Homo sapiens: one gene and its partner. The protein of the gene in region 2 purifies or fractionates together with the protein of the main gene of each other region. This does not show direct contact. Each region holds a gene or a part of one and is shown on either strand. Other genes may lie near its edges. The genes, in order: ADAP1 and SYNJ1.

What was found.
Region 1: the proteins of SYNJ1 (region 2) and ADAP1 fractionate together in Homo sapiens (co-fractionation; one large-scale study listed by BioGRID). This does not show direct contact.

What each region holds. Positions count from the first base shown.
Region 1 is NC_000007.14:934,135-937,945, forward strand, and holds part of ADAP1 (arf-GAP with dual PH domain-containing protein 1), read right to left. Parts: intron 1,372-3,811; coding exon 1,241-1,371; intron 1-1,240. UniProt on the Homo sapiens protein: GTPase-activating protein for the ADP ribosylation factor family. Binds phosphatidylinositol 3,4,5-trisphosphate (PtdInsP3) and inositol 1,3,4,5-tetrakisphosphate (InsP4). Regulates the incorporation of CD63 and CD9 into multivesicular bodies.
Region 2 is NC_000021.9:32,644,417-32,648,227, forward strand, and holds part of SYNJ1 (synaptojanin-1), read right to left. Parts: intron 2,187-3,811; coding exon 1,977-2,186; intron 1,374-1,976; coding exon 1,230-1,373; intron 591-1,229; coding exon 552-590; intron 1-551. UniProt on the Homo sapiens protein: Phosphatase that acts on various phosphoinositides, including phosphatidylinositol 4-phosphate, phosphatidylinositol (4,5)-bisphosphate and phosphatidylinositol (3,4,5)-trisphosphate. Has a role in clathrin-mediated endocytosis.

The DNA of each region.
Region 1 (3,811 bases), on a different chromosome or scaffold from region 2:
GTCAGTGGTGGTGCAGAGCCGGGGACCGGGGTCAGTGGTGCTGGAGAGCCGGGGGCCGGGGTCAGTGGTGCTGGAGAGCCGGGGGCCGGGGTCAGTGGTGGTGCAGAGCCGGGGACCGGGGTCAGTGGTGCTGGAGAGCCGGGGACTGGGGTCAGTGGTGCTGGAGAGCCGGGAGCCGGGGTCAGTGGTGCTGGAGAACCAGGGGCTGGGATCAGTGGTCCTGGAGAGGGGGTGCCAGAGTCAGTGGTGTTGGAGAGGGGGGGCCCAGGGTCAATGGTGCTGGAGAGGGGAGAGACATGTACAGGAGGCCACCAGCCTCTACGACCCTCCCCATCCCCACAGCAGCCCCCAGACCACCACTCTCACCTCCATGCGGCCCTTCGGTCCCACTCACAGCAGTCAGGAAGATCAATGGCTTCCAGACCCCAAGTCCCACGAGTGGGGCTGGGGTGACCCTCCCACCGGGTCTTCAGGCCCCACGCTCCATCCGACCTGCAGCCCCCAGCCGGGGTCTTGTTCCTTCTCCACCTCCCTCGGGGTCTCCCTACGGGGCCCTTCCTGCCGCCTCCAGCATGCGTGGCCCCTCCCTGCACGCCAGGGCTTCCTGGTTGGCTCACACCCGTCTCCCTCCCCATAGGGGCGTCTCTAGGGCCCCACGAAGCATCTGTGGCTGGTGTCCCTGCCTGGCCATGCCAAGTGCTCCGTGAAGCCTCATCAGATGCATGGGTGAGAGGTGGGCAGTGGCTGTGTCACCTCAGAGGCCGCCCAGGGGACAGGTAATGGTGCCCTACACGGCAGCGGGCCGGGGTGCACGTGGACTGCCGTGTAAATGCGACCCTGACTCTGGGTCGTGCCGCGCGGCCTGGGACGCTGCATTCTGTTTCCTTAGAGACAGGGTCTCTTTTACCCTGAGCCCAGTGCTCCAGGTGTGGGGATTTGAGGGGAGCACTCCGGAGCTCCCAGGGCACGGGAATCGGCGACCCGCCTTCGCTCCCTGGCCCACCACACACACCTGGAGCTGCTCACAGAGAGGTTGGACCCGGCACGGGGTGGGTGGAGCAGCCACACAGGCGGAGCCGCTGGAGAGGGGGCGGGGTCCTCGGGTCCAGCCAGCCAGGCCCCCAGAGTAGCCCAAGGCTCCAGGGGCCACAGCCAGGCCGCCCGGCATCTCTGGCTCCAGAGGCCCGGGCTGAGGCCACCCGGGGACTGCGCGGGTCCCCCCGCCCCTCCCCCTCCGTACCTCCACTTGGGCCTCCTCCCAGGCGTCCAGGCGGACGGACTTCACCTTGCTGACCTGGGGGATATTCCGGTGGATTCCCGAGCAGCTCAGGCAGATGAAGACGCCCAGAGTGTAGGAGGCCCAGTCGGGATCTGCAAGGGAAAGCCGGACGTTCACGGAGGCTCAGCCCAGGGACCCCGGAGGGAGGGTGGACGGAGCCTCGAGTCAGGAGCCCCCGGCCATGCAGTGGGGGGGGCTTCAGCGGAGACCCCCGGGTACACCAGGCTCCGTGCGCCCCACAGGCACCTAACCCCAGCTCCCCCCCCGCCCTCTGCCCGGTGCAGACGGGGCTCTCCCCAGACACCCCACGGCATCTGAGGAAGCCGATCTGCATGCACCTGCTCTGCCCCGCGGGTGCCGGGAACCTCCAGCAGAGGCCGGCCCCACAGGAGCCCATGCCCCGGGCTGGAGGGCACCCGGCACTCGTGAGGATGGGTCCACCTGCTTTCCTCGTGTCCGCTGCCCTGGGAGAAGTCTGTGGGCCCGAATCCTCCTGGGTGATGGGGCCAAGATTGGGAAATTCAGATAGGATCTGAGTGCAGGGGGTGCCTCACACCCAACGCGCTGCACACCCCCGAAGGACGGATGGTAGCCGCGGATGACGACGCACCCTGCGTGGGGTGACAGCGCCCGGCGGCCACTAACTTTGCAGGTGTGACAGCGGCGCTGTGGCTTCACCCTGCATGTGGCCTGTCTAGGGATTCCACGTCTCGATGTCTGGTTTGCCTTAAAAGGTCCAACAAAGCTGGACACAGTGGCTCAGGCCCGTAATCCCAGCGCTTTGGGAGGCTGAGGGAGCAGAATTTTTTTTGAGACATAGTCTGTTGCCCAGGCTGGAGTATGATGGCACGATCTCGGCTCGCTGCAACCTCTGCCTCCCGGGTTCAAGCGATTCTCCTGCCTTAGCCTCCCGAGTAGCGAGGCACGCACCACCATGCCCGGCTAACTTTTGTATTTTTAGTGGAGATGGGGTTTCATCATGTTGGCCAGGCTGGCCTCGAACTCTTGACCTCAAGTAATCCACCTGCTCGGCCTCCCAAAGTGCTGGGATGACAGGCGTGAGCCACTGCCCAGGGTGTGGGTGCCACAGCGCAGTCTTTCTGCTGCTGCACGTGTGAAATGTCTCATTCTGAAACGGCAAAATGTGGGGAGCGTCCAGCCCCGCCCTGGGGCGATGGCTAAGAGGGCTGCTGTGTGACTCTCCTGTTTTCTTCTGGCTCCCAACGACCCTTCACAATAAGTCAAGGGAGTGGAATGGCTGAAAGGCACCCTAGAGAGAACAGTCTCTCTGGGGGAGATGAGTCATCTCTGAACTGCTTTTATTTTTAAGTGGAGGCTCTCCTGGGTGAGGCTGGTGGAAATCGAGGCGCTTCCCCACAAGCAGGTGCGGCTGTGGACCCAAGCCTGTTTGGGGAATCATGAGTGGAGAGGACCCCACCCTTCAGGCCTGGCGGAGGATAGCCCCCCTCCCAACGCTGATCGGGGCCCACCCCTGGCTGGTGGGGGACTCCCATGCCAGGCGGCGGAGGCCCAGTGGGGCTGGGGCTGGGCCTGGGCTCTGAGTCACTGCCAGGAGGAGAGGCACCCAAGTGAGCCCCCGGCCGGGGATGGTGCGTGAGAACCAGCAGGCTGAACCTCGGATTTGGGGGTCATGCCCGGCCTCTGGGATTTGGGGGTCACGCCGGGCCTCGGATTTGGGGGTCACGCCCGACCTCTGGGATTTGGGGGTCACGCCCGGCCTCTGGGATTTGGGGGTCACGCCCGACCTCTGGGATTTGGGGGTCACGCCCGACCTCTGGGATTTGGGGGTCACGCCCGGCCTCTGGGATTTGGGGGTCACGCCCGACCTCTGGGATTTGGGGGTCATGCCTGGCCTCTGGGATTTGGGGGTCATGCCTGGCCTCTGGGATTTGGGGGTCACGCTGCACATCTGGGATTTGGGGGTCACGCCGGGCCTCTGGGATTTGGGGGTCACGCCCGACCTCTGGGATTTGGGGGTCACGCCCGGCCTCTGGGATTTGGGGGTCACGCCCGACCTTTGGGATTTGGGGGTCATGCCCGGCCTCTGGGATTTGGAGGTCATGCCCGGCCTCTGGGATTTGGAGGTCATGCCCGACCTCTGGGATTTGGGGGTCACGCCCGGCCTCTGGGATTTGGGGGTCACGCCCGACCTCTGGGATTTGGGGGTCACGCCCGGCCTCTGGGATTTGGGGGTCACGCCCGACCTCTGGGATTTGGGGGTCATGCCCGGCCTCTGGGATTTGGGGGTCATGCCCGGCCTCTGGGATTTGGGGGTCATGCCCGACCTCTGGGATTTGGGGGTCATGCCCGGCCTCTGGGATTTGGGGGTCACGCTGCACATCTGGGATTTGGGGGTCATGCCCGGCCTCTGGGATTTGGGGGTTTTCTGTCACAGCTGTTAGGCTCCCTGATTAATGAAGCCTGTCTCCCCATTAACGTGGGCTTCTTGAGGACCCCAGACCCAGCACCCCCGGATCTGGCACAGAGCTCAGTCCGGAGCAGGTCTCCACG
Region 2 (3,811 bases):
GATTTGTAAAAGTTCTTCTGAGGAATTGTGAAAACTCATCTCATCTTTTCTTGAGATTTAGATTAAATAAACTTGTCAAATGTATAACTCCAACTGAGCTCTGTGAGTTTTCATGTAAACCAAATAAACTATACTTCAAACAAAAAGTGACCCTTTGTGAATAAAAATTTCCTTATGAAGAAAGGAAAAGAAAATCATACAGTTCTTTGCTAATCCAAAAGCTTTTCCACTAGAAAATAAATGTATCACTAATCAGATACTTGGGAAATGTTCTGTATTTACTGTACCTGAATGACTTTTAAAATTAATATAACTTTTGGGTATTAAATCTTTGTAAATGAATCGACCACATTTATTAAAAAAAAAATTAGGCCTGATGAACAATCCCAGCCTACCTGGGAAATGAAAGCCTTTATTAGTTTTATTTGTGGATTAGTTTTAAACTAGAATGTCATTCATTTTGACTTTTATCAAACAAATCTAAAATGTCTTTCAGGTGTAAAACATTAATGAACCACGATTCACACATGCTAACAAATGTAAATGGTTACCTCCAAATTCCTTTCTAGTGGGTGCAGGACTCCTAGCCCCTTATAGTTCATAAGAAAATAGGCAGCAGAAAGGAAATGACATTAAATACAGAAGTGAAATGTCAAAGATTGCTATAGTATCCATGACATCAAGTATCATGCAGGAATTACATATTATCTACGTACTACAAAAACTATTATTCAATGCATATGCTTATAATTGAAGTAACAGCACTATATTTAATTTAAAAGAACATTAAACAAATACATACAATTGTACATTAATACGTATGCTCTCCAGTTTTATTATACTTTTACAGAAATTAGTACATTTTAATTATTTTATGCTTATAAATCATCCAGAAATGAGGATTTTGAAAAAAATTAAACCTAATTTTACCTAAGAACAGTTTACATGCCTAACTAGATCAAATTAGCAAAAACAAAATAAACCTCTCTGGCTGGCTGGTGAGAAGGCAGCTAAAGGCAGCTGTGAAAACACCTTAGAGGAATCTACTCTGCAAACACTCTACCTTGTCTGTTGCGCCTACCATGTTCTTTAGAGAAAAGCTAAGAAATAGCAATAATGATAGAAAAAACTGTAAAATCCAGAAGCTAGAGATTGGAAAACATGCAAAACATTTTAAAATAGAGTGAAGAATTTTACATCTAGCAGAAATGGAAATAAAAGGTTGTCACCTGAAGGCGGAGGAGGTCTCTGTGGGGGAGCCGGGCGTGTGGGAGGGGCGACCGGGCGGGGCGGCGGCGGCCGCTTGGGCTCCAAGGGCTGGGCGGGGTCTTTCTGCGGCAGCGGCGTTGCTGGCTGCGCGTCAATAGGAGAACCTAAAAAGCGCACAGGAGGTAAGAAGATCAGCTTCTAAGTAGCTGTTGACAGAAGGGAACAGTCCTTCATATATATGTGTAATGTTCTATAAAATGTGCACAATGGTGTAAAGAAAGGGCATGTATTTTCAGTATGAATAACAAAAGCAGTCTACTATTAAACTGCCCTTTGGTACCATGGCAGCAATAATGCTACCTCTGTGCTGACTTCTTACCTAGGCCTCAGGTGCTGAAAGCTAATTTACTAAGTGGCCCTATTGATATGCACAAAGTATTGTTTGAGTTAAGCCATTTTGTAGTCTGGCCAGTAGAGAGAAGAAAAAGCTCAAATAGTTAACGGGTTCATACCATAGAAAATCATCAGTTATAAGACATAGACAAACCTAACCACATAGAAAAAAGATTAAGAACAATTGTCATCTAGTGACAGTTATAGCAAGTTTCCTTTCCATTGAGAGCTTATCATCTACAAGTTTTCCTATTCTGTACCGGAGAAAACAGGGTGCACTTTATCACCTAGGTATGAAACTTAAACGATGACTCTCCAACATCAAGCACATTGGCCACAGGAAGCCATACAAAACTTTCAAATAAAATGCATACTCTGTGCACTGGGAGGCCCAGGAGTTCTTGACGGTGCTCGGCTTGGTCTGATGGGAAGGGAAGGTACAGGACCCTCTGATATTGTAGGTGACTGGCAGGGACTAGTTCGGGGTGAAGAGCTGGGGGAAGTACCAAGGCCGGAACTTGAAGATGGCTGGAGATGCTGAGGAAGAAGTTCCTCCACTTCAGCACTATAGTCATCAACATCACCTAAGGAAAAGCAGGCTTGATCAGAGATAACTCCATTTTAACTTGCTCAGAGATTTTTTTCACCTTAGGTTTTAAAAAGTTAAAATACACAAAACAAATATGAACATTATGTCATTGCAAACACACATGGATTAAGCATGAAGGCATGTATAAAACCACAATTAGTAGAAATGCTTGTTTCAGAAGATGTAAAGGTATCTATTGTCTCTGAGCAATAAGATGTCAGGTGACCAACCACTTGGAGCTGGGGTGACCCAATGGGCTTTCAATATGCCCCAGAGCAGCTTCTCCAGTGCAAGCCAACTCAAGTTTCCTGCTCTCCTTCCAAACCTGTCCACTGTGCTCTGTGGAACTGCCCCACTCCCTTGCCTAACCCAGGTCCAGCCTCAGAGTCAACAAGCTCTCAGGAGCCACACAGTCTTCCCCCAGAAGGCTCCTCCCTGCAACCCTCACCCCACAAAGACCCGCTTTGCTTTAATTAAGTAAACACTGGTTCTCCCCCAGGGTCTCCTCATCTCCACTTACTTCTGGGTAGGAAAGTGGGCACAAGGTAACCCTTGCAACCTAACTGCCATTCCAGAACATTAGTCTTCCAACCCTGAACAAAAAGTCCTACTGCTCTGAGGCTATGCCATCAGGAATTTATGTAACATCCTCTACCCCCACTTGCTACAGTCATCTCCAACGTCCATTCTTCCATTTCCTGAACCCACTCACTGAGGACTAAGCAGAGAGCAAGACTGTAAGTCAGGTCCCGCACCATCTTTCTGCGTGGCATCAAAGTCCATGTGGACAACTCGTTCAATAGCAAAATGCCTTGGTCCTATCCTTATGGACATTCGCCTTCACTCCTAACCCTCACCCCTCAGAACTGCACTCTTCTGAAATAATAAACTCAAAAGCTTCACTCTGACTTTGGCCTCCCAGCTTTTCAGTTCTCTCCCTTGGCTACTCCTTCTCTTTTGATTTCTTCAGAAGCCAGGGTTTGATCCCTCTAACTTTTACCTCCATCTGATTCTGCTTTCTTCTGTACCTACCTTCAGATTCTATGGTTCTTCATCTCAAACATTACCCTACTTCACTCTTCTTCCATTGCACGTGCTTGACATAACCCCATCCCTGCACTGATTCCCCTGTTTAATCTTTCTGTGATAACACTTGGATTGCTGACTGCCTCTGCTAAAGAAAACCACCCAGTCCTGACAACTGCAGTCACATTTGAAATTATGCTTTTCAGTCTCTTCTGGCCTAAAGTGCCTGGCAATTCCATGATTTGCTGGTTTGCTCTTCCCCTCACCCTTTGCTCTTCAGGAGCTTTACTGCAAAACTCCTTAACCCTCCTGAAACTGTGAGCTGTCCCACTCCTGCAGATCACTTCAACACTTCACAGAGAAGAGGGAAGTCTTAAGATGGGAACCCCTACTTCAACAGCCTGCCCCCAAGCTGGAGTCTCATTACATGGTTGTCACTTGGGTATCTGAGGATGGAACAAATGGGCCCCACCCAGCCTAATTTTCTCAGTGACACTGCTCTACTATTCTGCCTTGCCCTTCCCCCAAACCATCAGCCCTTTCTCCTCTACTTTTCCATTAGCACTGTGCATTCTCAAGCCTGTCCCATCCAAA